2 separate regions of the Homo sapiens genome follow, and region 2 is linked to region 1. A link means that fine-mapping ties the variant in region 1 to the expression of a gene that starts in the linked region. Tissue or cell type: fibroblasts. Region 1 holds a variant in brackets; the other region holds the start of a gene. All regions are shown on one strand. Distances are from middle to middle.

Region 1 (5,917 bases):
GCGATTCTCCTGCCTCAGCCTCCCAAGTAGCTGGGATTACAGGCATGCACCACCACACCTGGCTAATTTTTTGTATTTTTAGTGGAGACCGGGTTTCTCCATGTTGGTCAGGCTGGTCTCAAACTCCCGACTTTAGGTGATCTGCCCGCCTCAGCCTCCCAAAGTGCTGGGATTACAGGCGTGAGCCACCGTGCCCGGCTGCTAACAACTTTTAATTCTCAAGTCAAACCCTGGTCTTTCCATTAAGCCTTTCATAAACTCAGGAAAAGAGAAGAAAATCCTTTAAAAAAAAATAAATCAGCAGTGCGATTAATATTGCCCAAATGAAGCCCACAGATACCCAGGGATGGCAATTAAAGCTAGATAAGGGAGGATATAGTTAAGCATAACTTCTTGGACAAAGTCAGTCCTGAGTTGAATTCTGGAAGAGGTGCAGGCCATGGGCTAACATTAATGAAAGCACTAAGGAAGGAAGGAAGTCATGTGGCAAGGAGACTAACTTAGATGAAGCTCAAGAGTTACAGGAAAAAGTAATGAGAGCTGAGGAGGAGGGAGTCACTGTTCAACTCAGGCATTTGCTAAGCTTCAGCTCTATACAAGGCCCTGATAGGGAGGATAAAAGTGAAAAGAAACAATTCCCACCTTTTAATTTACATTTAAATGGGAGAGATCAAACGTATTCCCAAATAACAATAGTACTAAGGTAAAATGTAATGTGAACTATATTACAAATGTAAACCAAAAGCTATGGGACTATAATAATGGAAGGAATACAATAATGGCAGACTTCATGAAGGAGGTGACATTTGAACTCGGTCTTCAAGGATGGCAATATCTCAACAGGTAGTGATGAGGAGGAAATAGTCTGAGCCATCACAGAGGAAGGGAAGGGTAGGGTACTTGTAGAATAATGAGTAGTACCAAGTGATACAGGATGAGTGAGTGACAACAAGAAGGCAGTGTGTGCTCTTGAGCAAAGGAGGGATCTGATGAAACCATGTTTCAGAAAAAGTAACTGGTAGTAGTAATAATAAGTAATGGAGGGGAAGAAATGGAGTTTGCTAGGACAGTTAAGAAGCTACTGCCATAATCAGGGACAAGGAAATGAATTCCTAGAATGACAAAGAAAATGGAAAAAAAGTTTAGCCTCTAAAATGTTCTGGTTTACACATAAGTCTCTAGTTTGGATAATGTAAGTCTGCCCCCAAGAGGTGCTCACTCCCTTCTGAAACTGCAAAACTGAAAGCTCAAACCCGACACACAGCACCTCTGTGGAGATTATATGAGGACTTTTTCAAGAAATCAGTTCTGCTTCATGGCTCTTCCAAGAACATGTAGGTTAAGAAGTTAGAAAAGAATGTCAGAACATCGATGGGTGACAACAGGGAAGACTGCTGCCTGGCTGGCTGCCAGGAGGACCTAACCACATGACATTTTCCTTCATAGAGAGGCTGTGCTTCAAGCCTGGTTCTTTAGCTTCGCAGGATCAGAAAGTTAATTTTGCCAGCAAAACACGCACCTTCCTAAGCTCAAGACTAAAGGATAAGCCAGAATGTTTTAGAGGGAGAACCATAACCATAATCACAAAAAAGAGCAGAGACTTGACAAACACATCTCTGCAATTGGGACACATCACTGAGTCCACATGCCTTCTCTGAGCTGCACTTAAGATGGGCACTGCCAGCACGCATCGCTGTTCCCCTTCTCTGTGCTGCATTTCTGGCCAACCCTCTCCCCTTCCAATAGACACATTCATTCTTTAGATATGCCAATATAGGCTGGGCAAGGTGGCTCACACCTGCAATCCTAGCATTTTGGGAGGTCAAGGCAGATGGATTACTTGAGCTCAGGAGTTTGAGACCACCCTGAGCAACATGGTAAAACCCCATCTCTACAAAAAATACAAAAATTAGCCAGGTGTGGTGGCTCACACCTGTACTCCCAGCTACTTGGGAGGCCGAGGCAGGAGAGTCACTTGAGCCCAGGAGGTGAAGGTTGCAGAGAGCTGAGATCACACCACTGCACTCCAACATGGGTGACAGAGTGAGACCCCATCTCAAAAAAAATAAAATAAAAAAATAATAATAAAATATATATATATATATATATATATGGCAATAACATCAATAAGGCTACAGCCAAATCTTGCCTTGGACAATAAGCCATTCTGCCTTCTTAGGGTAACTTTTTCATTGGCCTCACCATTCTGGTTGATTTTATAGTTTAACTCTCTGAGGAAACCTTTATTTTCCTTACTTCCAGATTCTTGATGGGACATGGCTTTGCATTGCTCCCTCACATTGCCTGTGGTAGGAGTGTCTCATCATCCACCCTTTCCCTGGGGAGAAGAAAAGAAACACTTACTTCTTTTCCCAAAAATTCTGTTATTTCAACTCAGCAAGTTTATCTTCTCTACTTTTCTTAGCTCCTTTGCTCAATTCTGTTTCTTTTTCTTTTTTTTTTTTTTTTTGCAACTGAGACAGTGTCTCACTATGTTGCCCAGGTGGGTCTTGAACTTTTGGGCTCAAGCTGTCCTCCTGCCTCAGACTTCTAAGTAGCTGGGACTACAGGCATGAGCCACCATGCCTGGCCTC[G/A]GTTGCATTGCTTTAGTAGCCGCCACTTTATGCTTTAAGAACTGTTTTGCCTCACTGAAGAGAAGCTGCTGAGTCATTTTCATACTTGTTACTCAAATCAAAGTACAGGCTTCAGGCTTAGAAAAATTAAATTACTCCTTGTTTTGCCTGTGACAAAATAAAATGCACATTATTTTTTTAAAAGATATTTCTCTTTACTTGCAAGGAATGTTTTTTTGGCAATGACTTTATATATATCACAGTAGTACCCTAAAACATAATGAGGCAGATGAGAGTTTGGGGAAAAATGGTCAAGATTCATGTTGCTTTATAAACTCCATAAGGGCACAGAGTGTCAGATATATCTGATGGAATGAATGAAATAACTAACTAGTTAACAATGAATCCTCATAACTATTCATGGAAGATGGCAGAGTTTTTATCATTCTGGCCATAGAGAAATGCATTTGATGCCCCTTTTCAGCTGCAGGATAAGTTGTTAAATATGACATGAAGTCATTTTCACCACAGTTCCCCTGTGTTGGAACAAGTATGTTGGACTGAAGCCCCTTTGTTCCCTGTGGAAAGTCTGCCACCTCTGCAAACTTGTCCTCAGGAATGTCATTCTAGAAATAATCCAGCCTTCTCCCTGGGGTCTATGAGTCATACACAGAAGCTAATTCATTGGAGCAACTGGCTTTTCTTAGGCCCTTTGTAAAAGTATTTCAGAGATCCCTCCTGATGAAGCAAGGAAAGTAGAGTTCCCCCTCAGCTTCTTTCTAGTTCTTCCCTTATTTGCTCTGTGCTTCTTCCACCACCTCATATTTGGCTTTCACTGATGACCTTTACCTGCAGACCCAGGCCCCAATTCCTTAGCTAGTGTTGCCCGAAGCTGGAAGTACACCAGCAAAGCCTCATTACCCCACCTACCCAGCTCCATTCATTCAGATTTGGAATTAAATCACACTCTACCAGACCCTCCCCATCCTTTTTGCTGTTAACCACACTTGTGAGATACAGTATGCCAATGACTGATGCTCCAGGCTTGGTTCTCTACTATAAGGGGATACCCCAAAATTCATCTTTTTTCCTTTTAATTTTTTTAAATTAATTTTTTATAACAAGTAGTAATAGAACACATTTTCACTGTAAAATAACATGAAGCTGAAGTCCCCTTTGTTCAACTAAGTATTTAATTTGCATTGCTGTATAATTTTTGGTGGTTTTTATATTCTAGAATGTTTTGGGGTTGTTTGTTTGTTTGTTTTTACAGTGGATTTCTTTCTCCCATGTTTTATTTTTTATTTATTTTATTTATTTATTTATTTTTCTTTTGAGATGGAGTTGCCCAGGCTGGAATGCAGTGGCCTGATCTTGGTTCACTGTAGCCTCTGTCTCCCAGATTCAAGCAATTCTCGTGCCTCAGCCTTCCACGTAGCTGGAATTACAGGTGCCCGCCACCACACCTGGCTAATTTTTATATTTTTAGTAGAGACAGGATTTCACCATGTTGGCCAGGCTGGTCTTGAACTCCTCAGCTCAAGTGATCCACCCACCTCAGCCTCCCAAGGTGCTGGGATTACAGGTGTGAGCCACCATGCCCCACCTAGAATTTTTTTTAACACAAGAAATGCACAACTCCAATAAAATTCAAACAGTATAGAAGTATGAAGAGTAAAAAGGGAAAGTATCTCAGAACCCTGCCCTATTTCCACTTCCTGTCCACTGTTAACAGTTTGATGATAGCCTTCCAGAGCTTTGTAAAATGCATTTACATATATATATGTAGATAGTTTTATTTTTATATAAATGGGATCATGTTATATCTGTTCTACAGCTTCCTTTATTTACTTACTATCTCCTAGTTTTTCATGTCAGTACATTTAGCTTTGTTAACAAACACGTAATACTCCATAGTTTGAGTGTGTCATAATTTAAATATTCCCTATTGAGGGGATTTGAACTGCTTCCCGTTTGGGGTTTTTATTATTACAGCAATGCTATACCAAACATCTTTGCATATGCCTTTGTGTACTGCTCAAGAATGTCTCTAGGCTAGATGTCTAGAGATACAGTCAATGGATCAAAAAATAGGTGTGGAAGCTGGGCCAGTGACAAGTGCCTATAATCCCAGCTAATCCCAGCTACCTGTGAGGCTGAGACAAGAAGATTGCTTTGAGGCCAAGAGTTAGAGACCAGCCTGAGCAACATAGCGAGACCTCATCTCTAAAAAAAAGTTTTTTAAAAAATTAGTCAGTCGTGGTGGTGAGTGCTTGTAGTCCCAGCTACTCAGGAGGCTGAGGCAGGAAGATTGCTAGAGCCCAGGCATTTGGAGGCTGCAGTGAGCAATGATTGTGCATGTGAATAGCCACTGTACTTTAGCCTGGGTGACATAATGAGACCCCCGTCTCAAAAAAGAAAAGATGGATGTGTTCAAAATTTTATATTACTCAAAATTTACAATCTAAGTGAACACTTTATTTCCCTTTCTTTTGCAGAGAGTTCTATTCTGGGAACTGACATTGACCTTCAGACTATAGACAATGATATCGTCAGCATGGAGATTTTCTTCAAAGCCTGGCTACATAACAGTGGAACAGACCAAGAACAAATCCATCTTCTTCTTTCTTCACAGTGTTTCAGCAACATTTCCAGACCCAGAGATAATCCAAGTACATAATCCCCAAAAGATATTTAGGCTATGATTATTCTTATCTGGGATCAGGACTCTAGATTGGTGGTGAGTCAGTGGAATATAGCATCGTTGAGGTTTAGGGACTGGAAGAGGGTTGGATGAGGCTGTCCAATATAAGCGTGAGGAATAAGAAGAGAAGTTCTAAGAAGCAATCATAGTTAGAAAGCTGAACCTAATTAAGCCCAACCAGCAAGGGCCAGTTAGTTTAGGGGCAAAGTCTGAGACACCTCAATGACAGAGAATTGGCTAGACTACATAAGAACACAGTGGATCACATTTCTCAATATTCTCATTTTTAATGTGGTAAATATAATTGACATTATAGTTTGGAGCATGCTGCTACCTCAACAATATCAATACAGCCTGTGGCGAGAGGAAGAGAACCAAGGTTAAATAAAGATCTTCTCGCTAGGGAGGCAGCAAATGGGGGAAAACTAAAGAACCTACAGAGATACGCCCCAGGGAGGACAACCTGTGCCCAAGACCATGTTCACAAAGCAGTTCAGGCAATTACTGAAACCGAGAGATCAATCCAGTGTTCTGGTCATGCCAAAAATATCCTGGATAATGGATACTGTTCTGCCTGGCAATTATACTTCATTCCAGGTCCCACTAGATGACAGGAATAAGGCCATTTCCATTCTCCCAT
Region 2 (5,172 bases), 70 kb before region 1:
AAACAAAGTGGATGATCTCCCCCCATGTCTCCCAACTCACCCCCTCCTACTACCCCTGCTGTTACATCTTTAGTTATTATGAAATCCCCCACACACACTCATAAAATCATAGATTTAATCACATGCTACAGGGTCAGGGGTCCTTCCCTCTCTTGTCTCTCACCCTGCGGGGTCTCTCCCCTGAGAAGGGCAGGGATAAAGCGAAGATGGTGTCCCGGGCGCCAACATAAAGTGTGTGGGAGGCAGGATCCACAAGGAGAACAGAGTAATTGTATGTGTGAGGGACTGCGAACCGGGTGAGACAGGAGTCAGCCTCTGGCAGGAAGAGAGGAGAGTGATGTTAGCCATCGCTTCCTAAGGGTCAAGTCCACAAGAGCAAAACCAAAGGGGCCAATTTTTGTTTTCTTCCAAGTACCATTTATTAAGCAGCCATGGGGGAGAAACACAGCCTTGACAAGTGAACCAGAGATAGATGAGGCCAGAATATTTAGCACACAATCCAGTGGGTAAGTATGCTTTTTCTATAAAAATAGAGCACTAGCTGGACACGGTTGCTCACGCCTGTAATCCCAGCACTTTGGGAGGCTGAGGTGGGTGGATCACTTGAGGTCAGGAGTTTGAGACCAGCCTGGCCAACATGGTGAAATCCCGTCTCTACTAAAAATACAAAAAATTAGCCAGGCAAGGTGGCGCGCACCTGTAATCCCAGCTATTTGGGAGGCTGAGGCAGGAGAATTGCTTGAACCTGGGAGGCAGAGGTTGCAGTGAGCCAAGATCACACCACTGCACACCAGCCTGGGTGACAGAGCAAGACTCCGCTTCAAAAAAAAAAAAAATCTAAACCTCATATTAGCATTCAAAATTCGTATCTATTTAAAGACTGGAATAAGTTGGCATGAATTTACCTTCCTAGCTCAACCTCTGGTTCTGGGGACCCTACCCTTGCACCAATACAGCTCTGCTCTACCTGCTTCCTCTGCTCAGTACCCTCAAGACTGCAGACTGGACACCAACCCATTCATTCCTAGATGTACTGATGAGTCCCGCCCACTCCTTCCTCCCACACCCATACTTACCTCTGTGCCCACTCTCTCATGCTTAGTATAAGCCCTGGATCACCTAACTTCCCCTCACATCCTCAACTCTGCTTCACCTTGCTTGCCATCTAGACATCTCTGGATGCCTGGACATCAACCCAGCCTGGCAATCTCAACTTACTTTGTGGCTATTGCTTGGGTGCAAACTGAAACCCCAGGCTCTGGCCACAACTTCGCCTTCTGGAATCACAGCATCCCTATATGGCACTAGTCTGAATTTAAACTCTAAACTACTATTAACCAGTCCAGAGTTGTTGCCAACAGGTTGTACTCTTGGCTTCACTGGTTCTGTCTGCCCAAGGTGCTAATAACACTCAATGCCCACTGAGAAGACAACAAGGTCCACGGCCATGCTCATACCCACCTCAGCAGAGTCTAAAATGTGAATCGCCCCAATGATCACTTTTAACCTTGTGACGTCTCCTAGCTTCTTCCACATCTTTTCAAAGGATCATATCCCCCTCCTCTATTTTTCCTTCTGAAGACTTGAAAAATCATTTAAGCAGAACTTTACATCAACACATTGAATGGTTTACCAATATTCAATGTAGGGAATGGGCAGAGGCAGCGAGGAACACTGAGGAAGTTAAGAGAGTTAACGTGGATCCAATAATGGGAGAATGGGAGCTGCTGTCAGAGATGTCAGGGGAGCGGGAAGGGCTGTCAGAAGGGCCAAGAGGCTCGGATGATGTATAGAACTGATAGGGAAATGAATTGGAGAAGATGGAAATGCTGACCTGGAGATCGGAATGGAAAGCTGGAGTAGAATGAAAGACTGATGGGTCTGAAAGCAGAGTGGGCGTCAAGCTGGAATGATGGACCCAGGTGTATGTGCGGGGAAACAGGGGACTAAGGGAGACGGAACTTCGAAATGAACGACCTCGGGCAGCCCCCACCCGAGCTCTGGGCCTCAGTGTCCGAGTCTGCACGGTGAGGACTGGACGCTCCTGCGGCTCCGGGAATAGGGCCCGCTGGTGCAGCCTGGGCGTGTCGTGGGAGCCGAGGCGCGAGGCCCGGGCTGGGGATGAGGGGCTGAGGGGCGCGGGAGGGATGCAGAGAGGATGCGGTGAAGTGCGAAGATCTCGCCCCGGTCCCGGCGGGGCGTGGGCGGCGTGAAACGCCATACACCAGGCTGAGAGGCCCGGGTCCGGCCGAGCGGTCTGAGGAGCAGGTGGGTGTGGGTGTGGGTGTGGGCGCGAAGGGCTGAGGGCGTGGGCGTCCGCGCCTTACCAGAGATTGGAAGCGAGGTTCTGGGCACCGAGCGGGGGACGCGGCCGGATACCGGGCCGCTCAGCACCGCCAGCAGCAGTAGCGGGAAGGGCGAGGCTGTAGGCTGCCCGGGACCCGGGCGGGGCCGCGCAGCAGAGGCCGGCATCTTTGGCTCCGCCTGGCCGCGGGTGCGGCGCAAGCTACGGCCTCTGCTCAGGGCCCCGGGGCTACTGGCCTCGGCCCCACTCGGGTCCTCTCGGCTCGGTCCGGCTCAGCCTGAGGCTGAGGGATGAAACACCGCCCGGCTCCGCCCCCTCAGAAAGGGGCCAATGGTCGGGCCTCCTTCTTCCTCCAGCCAATCGGGATTGAGTGAAGGCGGGGCTGAGGGGAGGAGAGGCCTAACCCAGGCAGAGGCGGAGCTAGACCCAGGTGAAGGTGGGAGTTCTGCCTCGGAAGTGCGCTGGGGCTGCCACTCAGGGACCTCGAGTGGCGAGTTTGCTCCGGCCACTCCAAAAACTCAAACGCCCATAGCTGTACTAATAAGGAAAACTTACTAATAAGAGGACGTGGATACACGCACCAAGTTTCTCAAAATTAATACTTTGCAAGCATTTAAGGACGGCTGCCTATGTGCTGGGCAGGCACAGTGTAACGCGCGCGCGCACACACACACGCACACACACACACACACACACACACACGATTATACAGAAAATACTAAAAATCACGGCCCTTGCCCTAGGGAGTTCACACTGTAATGGGGCTTCCAAATGTAAGCAAATAACTGCAAATAGATAATTGCAATACGAAGCAATGCACGTTTGCTATAATAACGTGCAATAAGTGTGCAGAAGGGCCAGGTTTTGCCAGAGGAAATCAGGAAGGCCTCACAGAAGAGGTGACATTTGAACTGATTCTTCTAGGGTTGGTAGGCCTTTGAGGGCGAGGAACAAAGACTGCCTATGGGCATATCCACTTGGATATCCTATAAACAAGGCAAGCATAGGTCCTGAGGATAACTCACTATCTCCTCCATCCCAACCCTAGCTCCTTCTTTTTTTTTTTTTTTTTTTTTTTTTGAGACGGAGTTTCGCTCTGTCGCCCAGGCTGGAGCGCAGTGGCGCGATCTCGACTCACTGCAAGCTCCGCCTCCCGGGTTCACGCCATTCTCCTGCCTCAGCCTCCCAAGTAGCTGGGACTACAGGCGCGCGCCACCATGCCCGGCTAATTTTTGTATTTTTAGTAGAGACGGGGTTTCACCGTGTCAGCCAGGATGGTCTCGATCTCCTGACCTCGTGATCCGCCCGTCTCGGCCTCCCAAAGTGCTGGGATTACAGGCGTGAGCCACCGCGCCCGGCCCCTAGCTCCTTCTTCAAGCACTTAGTCTGCACTTAGTAGGTAGTCTTTGCTTTCTCCTCTTTCACCCCCATTGTATTAGTTATTTAGGCTGCAAAACAAATGTAACAAATTAACCTCAGAATTTGGTGGCTTAAAACAAACAAACAAAAGACATGGTCCCTGAATTCGAATTGCTTAGCCTGGAGGGAAAATCAGACATTTGGAATAAACTTTTATTATCTCTCACAATCTCTCTGCGTCAGAAATTTAGGAGTAGTTTAGCTAGGTGGTCTGGCTTCCAGTCTCTCACAAGATTACAGTCCAGATATCAAACGGGGCAGCAGTCCACTGAAGGCTTGCCTGGGGCTGGAGGATCCACTTCCAAGATGGCGGACTTCCATGCCTGCCAAATTGGTAGTGGCTGTTGGCAGTAAGTGAAGGTTGTTCTCCACATGAATTTCTCCATGGGGCTGCTTGAATGTCTTCACAAAATGGGGTGACTTCCTCAGAGCAAGTGATCCAAAAGAACAAGGCAAAAGAGCAAATGATATATTTGTGACCTAGCCTCAGAAGTAACACACAATCTCTCGGCCATATTCTACTTGTCACACAGGGCAGCCCTGATGCACTGTGGAAGGGGACTTCACCAGGTGGTACAGGGATTTCACTGGGAATACAAGGATTTCAGCCTCCTTTCTTGGAGACTAGCTACCATGCCCATATGTAAGAAATCACTATGTCCTTATAAATCTGACTAAAAAGTAACTTAAATCCATCCTTTTCTTTCCATTATCATCATAGTTCAGGACATCATCATCATTCACCTGGACTGTGTGATAATTTCATTTAAAAAACAAAAACCTAGCCTCCAGTCCCTCCCCTTCCAGACTGCCATCAGGATAATCTTTCTAAAGTGCAAGTACTAGTTCTAGTTTGTTCTTTCAACAGTTATTAAGGGCCTAATATGTGCCAGGCATTTTACTAAGTACTAGAGATAAGATTAAGACATGGTCCGTTGGCTGGGCATGGTGGCTCATGCCTGTAATCCTAGCACTTTGGGAGGCTGAGGCAGGAGGATCACTTGAAGACGAGTTCGAGACCAGCCACGTCAACATAGCAAGACCCTGTCTCTGCAAAATAATAATAATAGCAAGGCCTGGTGGCACACACCTGTAGTCTCAGCTACTTGGGAGACTGAAGCAGGAGGATCACTTGAGCCCAGGAGTTCAAGGCTGCAGGGAGCTACGATCACACCATTGCACTCTAGCCTGCCAAAAAAAAAAAGCCATTGTCCTTGAATTCAAATTGCTTAGCCTAGAGGGAAAATCAGGCATTTGGGATCAGTACTTCTAATCTTCTCTCTGAAATCTTCTTTCTAAAACCAACCTCAACACAATGGAACCCCTGCCCCCCGTCTGAGTTTCTTCCTCTAGCCCACTATATGCCTTTCCTAAGCTGCTTCTCAGCAGTCTAGTCTAGGCCTTAGTCCCTTCTCTGAACATGACTTATTGGTTGTCTTTTGATTTTT

The links. PIP is the estimated chance that this variant, and not a neighbour inherited with it, causes the effect.
Region 2: it holds the start of SEMA4F, and the variant in region 1 is fine-mapped to the expression of SEMA4F in fibroblasts (GTEx, PIP 0.96).

Annotation. Positions count from the first base shown.
Region 1 is chr2:74,581,002-74,586,918 of GRCh38, reverse strand. M1AP (meiosis 1 associated protein) reads left to right here. Exons shown (of 11, transcript NM_001321739.2): 5 at 5,072-5,245. Among named protein-coding and RNA genes, the nearest start is that of DOK1, 29 kb to the right of the region's middle. The variant G/A (reference allele first, on the strand shown) is at 2,595.
Region 2 is chr2:74,651,677-74,656,848 of GRCh38, reverse strand. It overlaps SEMA4F (ssemaphorin 4F), which reads right to left and starts at 2,602. Exons shown (of 14, transcript NM_004263.5): 1 at 2,328-2,602; 2 at 164-315. The coding sequence starts at 2,472. RefSeq lists a silencer at 2,326-2,755.